Linked DNA regions of Homo sapiens: region 2 is linked to region 1. Evidence: fine-mapped expression QTL. A gene starts in region 1. The other region holds a variant in brackets. All regions are shown on one strand. Distances are between the middles of the regions. Region 1 holds the start of TOX2 (TOX high mobility group box family member 2). Region 2 has its middle 43 kb from the start of LINC01728.

Region 1 (5,378 bases):
TACAGAGCATCAGAATAAAGCAGGGGCCTCGGCTGAGTCCTGCCTCCAAAGGCCCCTATTTGGGACAGCCCCACCCTGGCGAGATTTATAGAAACACCACCCTCAAACGGAGCGCTCCAGGCTAAACCCCCACCCACTCAGACTTTGAGGCACAAATGCCCAGCCCACCCACACCCGCAAACCAGAGGCTGGTACCTACCTCGCCAACTTCACATTTTGAAAAATAACAAAGCCAAGGGCAGAAGACAGACCAGCTGCCCCCACACCCAACCTTCTCCTCCCTGAAAACTCCACTTGCTACTTTTAATCTATTTTCCTCCATCAGACTGGAGGCAGCTCCCGGCCTTCTCCTGAGGCTACCATCCCCCCTCATCGGCTTCTAACTTTGCAGGTCACTGGACAAAAGAGAACCACCGCCACTCTTCGCGAGACCTCACTTGTCGCCCACCACCGCCCCACATCGCGCAGGCCCTAGTGGCCTGGATGCTTGCTGCCCCTGGCGAACTGCAGGGAGGCTTTGCCAGAAGCCGCTCCCCTGGGGCCTGAGGGCGCACTCAGGGAGGCCCAGCCCGGGAGGCCCCGGGATCCGCGCCGGGACGCCTCTCTCCTGCCTCATCCCCACTACCAGGGGCCTGACGAAAAGCCTGCGAGGTTGGGGAGAGACCCTGGGGGGCGCCGATCCAGCCACTGGACGCGCACTCACCCCGCATCGCCACGGAGCCCACGCGTCTGCGCCAGGGCTGCGGGAAACCCACGCGCGCTGTTCAATCCGGGCTCCGAGTGACGAAAACCCGCGCTTGGCTCCAGCCGGCCCGGGACCGACGCACCGACTGGCGGACGCGCGGACAGTCTGGCTTCCTAACTAAGTTTGAAAGTTCCCTCTCCGGCGACCGAAGGGGACGCGGACTGCTTAGAGGCACCCAACCCATCCAGGCTGGGCCAGACCCGGCAGTGGGACCTGACGCCTCGGGTTCGGGGTTCCAGGCACGCAAGCCTCCATCACTGGGAATGCGCCCGGCGCAGCGCAGCTGGGACCTGGCTGGGGTGGGGGGATAGATCCTGGAAACATGGAGGAGGGAGGGTGTCCGGCACTACAGCCCCAGCCTGGAGGGACGCCGGCTCACCGCTCCCGGGAGGACACAGGCCTCGATTGGCCGCAGCCTACTCGGAATCCGAGGCCCCGCCAGGCAGTGACGGCCAATTAGTAAACTGCCCAATTAGTGTGCTGCGGCGCTGAGAAGTTAAACCTCGACGCGCGAGTGTGGATGACCGAGGTGTGGCCGTCCCTGGGTGTGACCGCGTGTGACTGTGTGGCCGTCAGGACGATCTGTGTCTGAGGCTCACCGTCCAGGGGGGTGGCTGTGTGTGACAGCGTGCGCCTGGGTGAGGCGTTGTGGCTGCGAGAGTGTGACTGTCGGGCGACTTCTTTGTGTGACTGTCCCCCGTTGTGCCTGGGTGTGACAGCGGGTGGGGGCATGTCACGGTGTGTGGGGCATCGGAGCGTCTGTGGGTGACTCGTCTGTGGCGGTGAGGCTGTTTGCGGGTGAGTGGTTGCGTGTCGTTGTGTATAAGTGACTGTCAGGGTGACTTGCGTGGGACGGCGGGACCGTGTAAGCAGTGCCTGGCCGCCTGCGTGTGGCTGTGGGTCACTGTGACGGCTTGTGAATGACTGCGAGGCTGTCAGGGGGACGCGAGTGAGGGGCCACTGTGTCGTCGCACGGGTGGCTGTCGGGATGACTTCTGCCCGCGATCCCAACAACTCAGGGCGTGAGCGTGGCCGCGAGGGGATCGATGTGAGCCGCCCGTGCCCGTCGGCGGGGCTGATGTGCGCGGCCCCGTGTGACCCCGGGAGCGCCTGAGTCCCGAGCTGCCAGGTGACTCCGGCCCCGCCCGCCGGGGACCCCCGCCCGCCCCCGCCTACCTTGCCGCCGTGGTAATAGTCCAGGTGCGCCAGGCCGGCCGGCTCGGCCCCGGGCCGCGCGCCCACCGCGGGCGCCGAGGGGTACAGGCGGACGTCCATGGCGGGCGCGGCGGCGGCGGCGGCGGCTCCCGCGGGCAGTGCCTGGGCGGGCGGCGGGTGGGAGCCAGTGTGCGAGCGGGACTGCGAGCGCGGGGGGCGGGCCGGGGGCGGTGCCCAGAGGAGCGCCCCGCCCCCGCCCCCGCCCCGCCCGCGCGCGCTATTGTTCCGGCCTCGGGCGCTGCCTAGGGCCGGGGGCCCGGGGGCCCGGGCCGGGGCGTGGAGGTCCTTCCTCCGGGCTGGGCCGCCGCCGGGTCCCCCGCCCGGCCCTGCATCCCTGAGGGGGGCGCGCCTGTCCAGACGGCGCTTTTCCGTCCCGCCTTTCGCCACCCACGGTGAGGAGAGAAGCCCGAACGGCACCCCTCCCCAGAAGTGGGACACTCCCTTGCCCTAAATATTTGAGGCGGCGCTAGTCCCCGCCCCGCGGCGTGGGTGCGGGGGGAAGAGGAAGGTGGTGACAGGACCACTTTGGAGATGGGTGCTGCCTTACCTGGGGGGACGCAGGCCAGCGCCGGAGGATGCTCTTAGCATGCCCGCCCCCTCCTCGTCTCACTGATCTGAGTCAGCTTGACAGCCCCCCCTGGAGATTGCCGCGCTTAAACTCTCACTCACATATGGGGAAACTGAGTCAAAAACTTGCAGCATCAGTAATGGAGCTCCAGGCGGGTGGGCTCCGTTGCCCCCAAAGGATCCAGAGCTGAAACCACTTGGAGAAGGCAGCAGGACCCCACCCCTTTTAATGATAGGGAGGGGAGGGCCGCAGGAATGCCTAGAGCCCGAAGCTCTGAAGAGGGGTCTAGGATCTGCCCACAGTCACGGTCTCTTGGAGTGAGGAAAGGAAGAAAATGAGATTGGAATGGGATGGCTCTGATGGTGGGTCAGAAAGGTGACTGTGAAATGGGGTTCCTCCCCAACCAAAAAAAAAAAAAAAACCCTCTAGTTCTTGATATCACTTGCTGGTTGCTAGACTGTTGCACCCCCATCCCCCTTTTCATGCAAGAATTGTCTACACTAGCAATCTCCCCTAGCAATCTCACTGCTCACTGACTGCTCCAGGTATGTCTGACTGGGAGAGGCCAGGAGGCGAAGTCAGCCAGAATGGCATTCTTGTGTGGCACCAGGATATAGGATGCCATTGGGAGAAAAGGACTTGAGCTTCCTGCCCACTCAGGAGCTAGCTTAGAACTTAGTTCTCAACTGCTGCTTGGGCTTTGCTGGTCCTGGCCTAGAACTAGGACCATAAGAAAGATGCATTAACAAAAGATAGGTGTGGGAAACAGGCATTCACTGAAGGCTTGGGAACAACAGAGGGAAATTATAGCTCAGAAAGGAAAGAACTTCCAAATAAATTTCAGCAGTCATTGTTTCTAGAAATACAATGCCACACCTCATCAGAAAAAAATTTCCATTGTCCTGTGTCCATTTTTTTCATCTGGATATCCAACTGACCAGCACTCTTTATTGAAAAGATCACCACCACCACCACCACCCCCCTACACACACACACATACTCTTCTGCAATGCTAACATTGTCGTAAATCAAGTAGTCGATATGTGCATAAGACTGTTCCTGAATTCTCTATTCTGTTCTGTTAGCCTATTTTTCTCTCCCTGTGCCATTATCACAATGTCTGGATTACTGTGGGCTTATAAGTCTAAATGTCCCATGAAATAAGCCTACCCATTTTGTTCTTTTAAGACTGCATTGGCTATTCTTGATGTTTACACTTTCACAGAAATTTTGGAATCAGCATACCTATTTATATATATACACACAAACACACTAACACAATCTTGCTGGGATTTCAATTGGTATCACTTTGAACCTTTAGATCAATTGGAATAAAATTAACATTTTCAATAGTAAAACTTCTTATCCATGAACATGGTATGTCCCTTCATTTATTTTGGGTTTTTAAAAAAGTTATCTCAGCAATGTTTTGTAGTTTTCTACGTGGAGACCTTGCACATCTTTTATTAAATTTAGCCCCGGGTGTTTTTTGTTGCTATTATGAATGGCTTCTTTATTTTATTTTCTGTTTGTTGTCAGTACAGGGTTGTTGTTTTACAACATGTCCACAAATTCTTTGACACCTTTCCCAAGAAGTAGAGTCTAACACTCTTCCCCTCGGGAAGGGATTAGTCTTAGCGAATGGGTTTTAACAAAAAGAATGTGACAGAAGTGAATCTATGTGACTTCTGAGGCTAGCTAGATCATAAAATTAATAGGGCTTCTACCTGGCTCCCTCTCTCAGGACTTTTGTCTTTGGAACACTAAGCCATCATATGAGAACTCTCTCTTAGGCTGCCATGCATTGAAGAAGCCCAAACTAACCCACACAGAAAAATCATATGCAGAGACCCTGATACTAAGTAAAGAGGGATTCCTAGCCAGTCCCCAGCTCTGCCAGCTCCTGCTGTTCCTGTTCCATCTGCTATCTGACTGTACCCACATGAAAAAGGCTGAACTGTGCAGATGAGCCCTTCTTGAATCCAAAATGCACAGAAACCATGAGAGATAATAAATGATTATTGTTATTTTAAGCCACAAAGTTTTGGAGTGATTTGTTACTTAGCAATATAGGTCTGAAACATAGTATAAATAGATTTTTAAATAATGCCCTTGTATCCAGCAACATTGCCAAACTCATTTATTAATTCTAGTAATTCATCTGTAGATTCTTTGGCTTTAAAAAAAAATTTCTATCTCATCTGTAAAAATGAGAGTTTTAGTTTTTTCTTTTCAATTCTTATAAGTTTTGTTTCTTTTTCTTGCCTTGTTGCACTGGCTAATATCACCAGTATAATTTTGGAAAGAAGTAATAGTAGCAGACACTCTTGCCCCATTCCTGATTTCCTGATCTCAGAAGGAAAGATATCAATAGTTCACCATTAGTTATAATGCTTGCTGTAGTTTTATTTTTGTTTCATTTTGCTTTGGTGTTTTTGTTTGTTTGTTTGTTTTTTGAGACAGAGTCTCACTCTGTCACCAGGCTGGAGTGCAGTGGTGTGATCTTGGCTCACTGCAAACTCCGACTCCCTGGTTCAAGCGATTCTCCTGCCTCAGCCTCCTGAGTAGCTGGGATTACGGGTGTGTGCCACCATGCCCAGCTAATTTTTGTATTTTTAGTAGAGACAGGGTTTTACCATGTTGGCCAGGATGGTCTTGATCTCCTGACCTTGTGATCCAGTTTTTTTTTGCAGACACCTCTGTTGCAGGTTGAAGAAATCAGTCTTCACAGAAATACTCTGGGTCAGGAAATAAGACTGCTGTGGCCATTTTACAGATGAGAAGAGTGAGACCCAGTGAGGAATGCACATCCTGACAGTTAATAGTAGAGCCAGGACTACACCTAAGTCT
Region 2 (5,378 bases), 63 kb after region 1:
ATTGGCCAAATTGAGTGATTGGAAATAATGCAGGAAGTGGGCTGGTGAAGGCACTAGTCAGTGGCAAGGACACAGGGCTGGAGGTGGGGGGTCATGCCAAAGTGTGAGGCCCATGGGCCTCATGGCCGAGGAGGCTGGCTGGGGCGGTGGTGTCGGGGGGGGCTTTGTGGAGGTGTGTGGGCTGACAGTCACAGCAGCCGCAGATGCAGGACGGTGAGAGGATGTTGCGATGGTGGAAGATAGGTTATATGAAACAAATAAGCAAAGCAATTGAATAAATTAGTACATATATTGGGGATAATGAGAGCCAAGATTCTCATTGCCTAAGATATTTACAAATGTAAAAGGAGAAGGCTAGAAATAACCTTGAGGTATTGGATTGGATTTGGAGGTTTTGGTATAAACTCATGATTCGTGTGTGTGTGCGTGTGTGTGTGTATGTACATATATATATAGAGAGAGAGACACACATGCAAATAATTTTTAGTTGAATAAGCAGGAGTATGTGTGTACACACATGTGCATGCACGCACACACACATATACCTACATCCCAGGTGTAATGAGTACACTGAGTGCCCAGATCTTGGTTGTAAATATCACCCTTCACTGAAATGAATCAGGGCTACTCCAAGAAATGACTAATGCCAAGGCTGAGGCAGAAAATGCATGATGACGAGATGAACCTAGAATATCTCATTATGCCAGAAAGTAAGGAAATGGTGAATGAAAGATGAAGTCATAGCAAAAGGACATGGCAGCCACTGTGTTCTTGAAGGGGTCCCTGCCATCTGGGAAAAGACTTGGTTTTTTCAACAGAGTCTGGCTCTGTCACCCAGGTTGGAGTGCAGTGGTGTGATCTTGGCTCACTGCAGCCTCCACCTCCTGAGCTTAAATGATCCTCCCCACGTCGGCCCCCAAAGTAGCTAGGACTACAGGGGCACACCACCACGCCCGGCTGACTTTTGCATTTTTTTTTAGAAACAGCATTTCGTCCTGTTGCCCAGGCTGGTCTCGAACTCCTGAGCTCAAAGGATCTGCCTGCCTCGGCCTCCCAAAGTGCTGGAATTACAGGTATAAGCCACTGTGCCTGGATTTTTATTTTATTTTTTGAGACAGGGTCTTATTCCGTTGCCCAGGCTGGAGACAAGATTCTGATCGTCAAACTAGGTAATGATAGAAATGAATTATAAAATAGAAATCCATGAGCTCCTGCTGATATAAATACACCCGTACATACAAAAAGGAAAAGGAAAAGACTTTTTTTACAATAGAATATCAACTCATAGGTATAGAAGGAATGATGAGAATACAAAAATTACCATTTGGCCAATATCACAAAGGTGACTGATCCAGAAGTCATCCATGAAGGGGGTTTAACAAGGAACAGAAAATATTGGCATCATCTCAGAAACTTCCCCACAACATACCAATCAATTACAAAAGGGAAATGGTGAGTTTATGGTGGGGAAACCTAAGGCCGGGCACAGTAGCTCACACCTGTAATCCCAGCACTCTAGGAGGCCGAGGCGAGCAGAACACTTGAGGTCAGGAGTTCGAGATCAGCTTGGCCAACATGGTGAAACACCATCTACTAAAAATACAAAAAACTAGCTGGGCCTGGTGGCGGGCGCCTGTAATCCCACCTACTTGGGAGGCTGAGGCAGGAGAATCGCTTGAACCCGGGAGATGGAGATCGCAGTAAGCTGAGATTGCGCCATTGCACTCCAGCCTGGGCAACAAGAGCTAAACTCCGTCTCAAAAATAAATAAAATAAAATAAAATAAAAATACGCTGGGGAAACCTGGCAGGCACCAAGATGACCTGGTGGTCGAGATTAACACCTCCAGAGGTGGTCACCGTCTTGTGCCTCCTGAGATGATACACTGAAATAATGCAGCAGCATCCTGCGGCCTCCTTGCCCAGGAACATGGGCTGAGTGTGGACACAAGGAAACTTCAGATGGATCTGAGTTGAGTATCACCCTAGAGAATGGAGCCCTTTAAAACCATTGAGGAGGCCGGGCGCGGTGGCTCACGCCTGTAATCCCAGCACTT[C/T]GGGAGGCCGAGGCGGGTGGATCATGAGGTCAGGAGATCGAGACCATCCTGGCTAACAAGGTGAAACCCCGTCTCTACTAAAAATACAAAAAATTAGCCGGGCGCGGTGGCGGGCGCCTGTAGTCCCAGCTACTCGGGAGGCTGAGGCAGGAGAATGGCGTGAACCCGGGAAGCGGAGCTTGCAGTGAGCCGAGATTGCGCCACTGCAGTCCGCAGTCCGGCCTGGGCAACAGAGCGAGACTCCGTCTCAAAAAAAAAAAAAAAAAAAAAAAAACCATTGAGGATTCAAAAGACAGGGCAAAATGAGAAACTGTTCCAGCTTGTAGGAAACTGAAAATGCACAAGAACTAAATGCAATACATGTTCTTGGAGAAGGTTCTGGACCAGAGGGGAAAAGACAAATTGTTGGGACGCTTGAATGGGGTCCATGGATTGGGTGGTGGTGTTTGTACTGATGTTGATTTCTTGATTTGGAGGGTTGCATTGGGGTTAGGTAGAGAATGAACTTGGTCTGGTGAAATACACACGACTGTGTTTAAAGATGATGGAATACTATGTGTGCAGCTTGCCCTCCAAAGATTCAGAAAGAGAATAATGGAAGGAGAGAGAGACAGAGAGACAGAGAGAGAGAGAGCACACGCACAAGCCAGAATGTGATAAAATGTTAAGAATTTGATGATCTTGGTGAGGGCTATATGGTAGTACTATGTATTGTTCTAGCAATTTTTCCACAAGCTTGAAATTGTTCAAAGTATATTATCTTTTGAAATATTCAAAAGAATAAAAATCCAATTAGAAATGTTACTAGAAAGAATTATAGAAGCACCTTTGGCATATTTGAAATAGGCCTCATTTTTGTTGAATAAAGTGCATTCACATCCACTAAATAAATAAACACTCAGTGTTGGTGAGGGAACAGATAAAAAAGATTCTGTGGTGATAGGTTTGTAATTTGGTACAATCTAAATAGGCCTTTCTTTGAGTCTAAAAAATGCATAAAGAAGCATACAAAGATATATATGTTTTAAGGATGTTTGGGGCAGAACAGGTTTGAAAAATTGGAAACAACCCATGTACCTGTGAGTGGTCATTGAAAAATTCAGTCACGTCCCTACAACTTAGCTCTCAGGAGCCCTGCAACAATGAAGTATTGTTTAATGAACATACAAAGGTGTTCACAATTTATTTTTTGAAAAACAAATTTATGTATTTATTAATTTGGTCACTAGCTCAGCAAATATTTGTTGAATCCTATTATGTATGAATTGTTGGGTAAGGCGCATTGATTTAAAAAGATTTATAAAGTACTGTATTTCCTTTTCTGAAACTCCAATTTCTAATTGAGGAGACAGACATATCAACAAATAATATTTATGATATCTTCAGTGAAAAGTACAAGTTGAGACCAGGCGCAGTGGCTCCCGCCTGTAATCCCAGCACTTTGGGAGGCCGAGGCGGGTGGATCGCCTGAGGTCAGGAGTTTGAGACCAGCCTGGCCAACATGGTGACACCCCGTCTCTACCAAAAGTACACATATTAGCCAGGTGTGATGGCAGGTGCCTGTAGTCCCAGCTACTTGGGAGGCTGAGGCAGGAGAATCGCTTGAACCCAGGAGGTAGAGGCTGCAGTGAGCCGAGCACTCGAGCCTGGGTGACAGAGCAAGACTCCATCTCAAAAAAAAAAAAAAAAAAAAAAAAAAAAAAAGTGCAAGTTGTAGAACAATTTTCACAGAATGCCATTTGGAAAAAGAAATTATATGAACGGTAATGTGTGTGAGTACAGGCATGGAGACGAAAAGCACAGTGGATCGAATACATTATTAGCGGTTCTCTCTGGGAATGAGTTAAAATGGGGAAAATTTTACTTTCTGTAGTATTTTGAAATTTTTACAATGAGCATGTATTGCTTGTATAATCTGGGGTGATACAAGCAATAAAAATATCTATGACTAGGGAGAAATAACGTCATGTTGCCTGAACACAAAACAAGGAAAAGATGGGTCTTTGTCTCTAACACGGAGATGCAGCTCTGCCCTGGGAGCGATGGGCCTAAATTATTATTAATTGCAGTTGTAGGCCTCAGCACTTTGCCATGTCTGCAATTTTAGAAAGTAAACAAACATCTTGTTCTCAAGATAATCCTGAACTGTTTATATTTGGTCTTCCTGAGAAAGGACGTTTTGTGACTCACCAGGGCCGCAGGGAGGAAGGGCAGGCCCTTCCCAGATCTCAGGTTTGCCTGCTGCGGGAGGCCTGCCCTGGGGATCAGCTCCTGTTGCGCCCCTAGTTTTAGCCATGGAAGGGCCTCTGGTCATGAGCACTTCACCCTGGGGTCCGAGCCCCGTCCTGTTCACCCCTAACCCCATGAATGACAGGGGATCCTCACGGAGGGAGTTGGTAATCTTGGGAGGTGGAAAAAATATTACATCTGTCTCTTCAGCACCACTGCCCTGAAAGTTAGCATTTCCTTCCCTTGCGAATGTCAACAACAAACCACAGTTGTATTAGTGGTGTTCTTGGCTTTGTCACCAAAAGAAATATAGATATTTTCATATCGCATTACAGTCATTGCTACTATCTCCATAGATCGTTTACACCCAGTACCACTTCAAAGTTAAGATGCTAATTAGACCTGTCCCTAGCGCTTGTTATTTAGTGCATTAATGAAGAAGTACATTTATTACTATATCAAAAGTGTTTTTAATATTTTGATAACCATGTTTCAACATAATTGGAATCCTTTGTAATCTAATATATTTTTATTTTGTGCATTTAAAAGATGTGCTCAGAGAAGAGGCCCATGGCTCAGAAAGGTCAGGAGTGTTTGATCATGAGGATTGCAAAGGGTTGAGAGTCCCAGGAGGCCTAAGGGATGGCTCCCAAACCCCGCGAATGGCCAGCCTTTCACAACTCCATACTGCTGGAAAAACCCAAGTTTTGGCCAGGCACAGTGGCTCACACCTGTAATCCCAGCACTTTGGGAGGCTGAGGCAGGCGAGTCACCTGAGGTCAGGAGCTCGAGACCAGCCTGGCCAACATGGTGAAACGCTGTCTGTACTAAAAATACAAAAATTAGCCAGGCATGGTGGCGCACACCTGTAATCCCAGCTACTCAGGAGGCTGAGGCAGGAGCATCGCTTGAACCCGGGAGGAGGAGGTTGCAGTAAGCCGAGATCATACCATTGCACTCCAACCTGGGAGACAGAGTGAGACTCCATCTCAAAAAAAAAGAGAAAGAAAACCCAAGTTTTCACTTTCTCCAAAGAAATGCTGGAGCTGGGCATGGTGGCTCATGCCTGTAATCCCAGCACTTTGGGAGGCCG

Evidence for each region. PIP is the estimated chance that this variant, and not a neighbour inherited with it, causes the effect.
Region 2: its variant is the best candidate, but not a certain one, in a credible set for the expression of TOX2 in vagina (GTEx, PIP 0.56).

What each region holds. Positions count from the first base shown.
Region 1 is chr20:43,911,534-43,916,911 of GRCh38, reverse strand. TOX2 (TOX high mobility group box family member 2) reads right to left here and starts at 2,060. Exons shown (of 9, transcript NM_001098797.2): 1 at 1,922-2,060. The coding sequence starts at 2,020. RefSeq lists silencers at 580-629, 690-749, 1,820-1,909, 1,960-2,069, 2,090-2,189 and 1 more and enhancers at 888-1,605, 1,606-2,323.
Region 2 is chr20:43,848,870-43,854,247 of GRCh38, reverse strand. No RefSeq gene overlaps it. Among named protein-coding and RNA genes, the nearest start is that of LINC01728, 43 kb to the left of the region's middle. The variant C/T (reference allele first, on the strand shown) is at 2,057.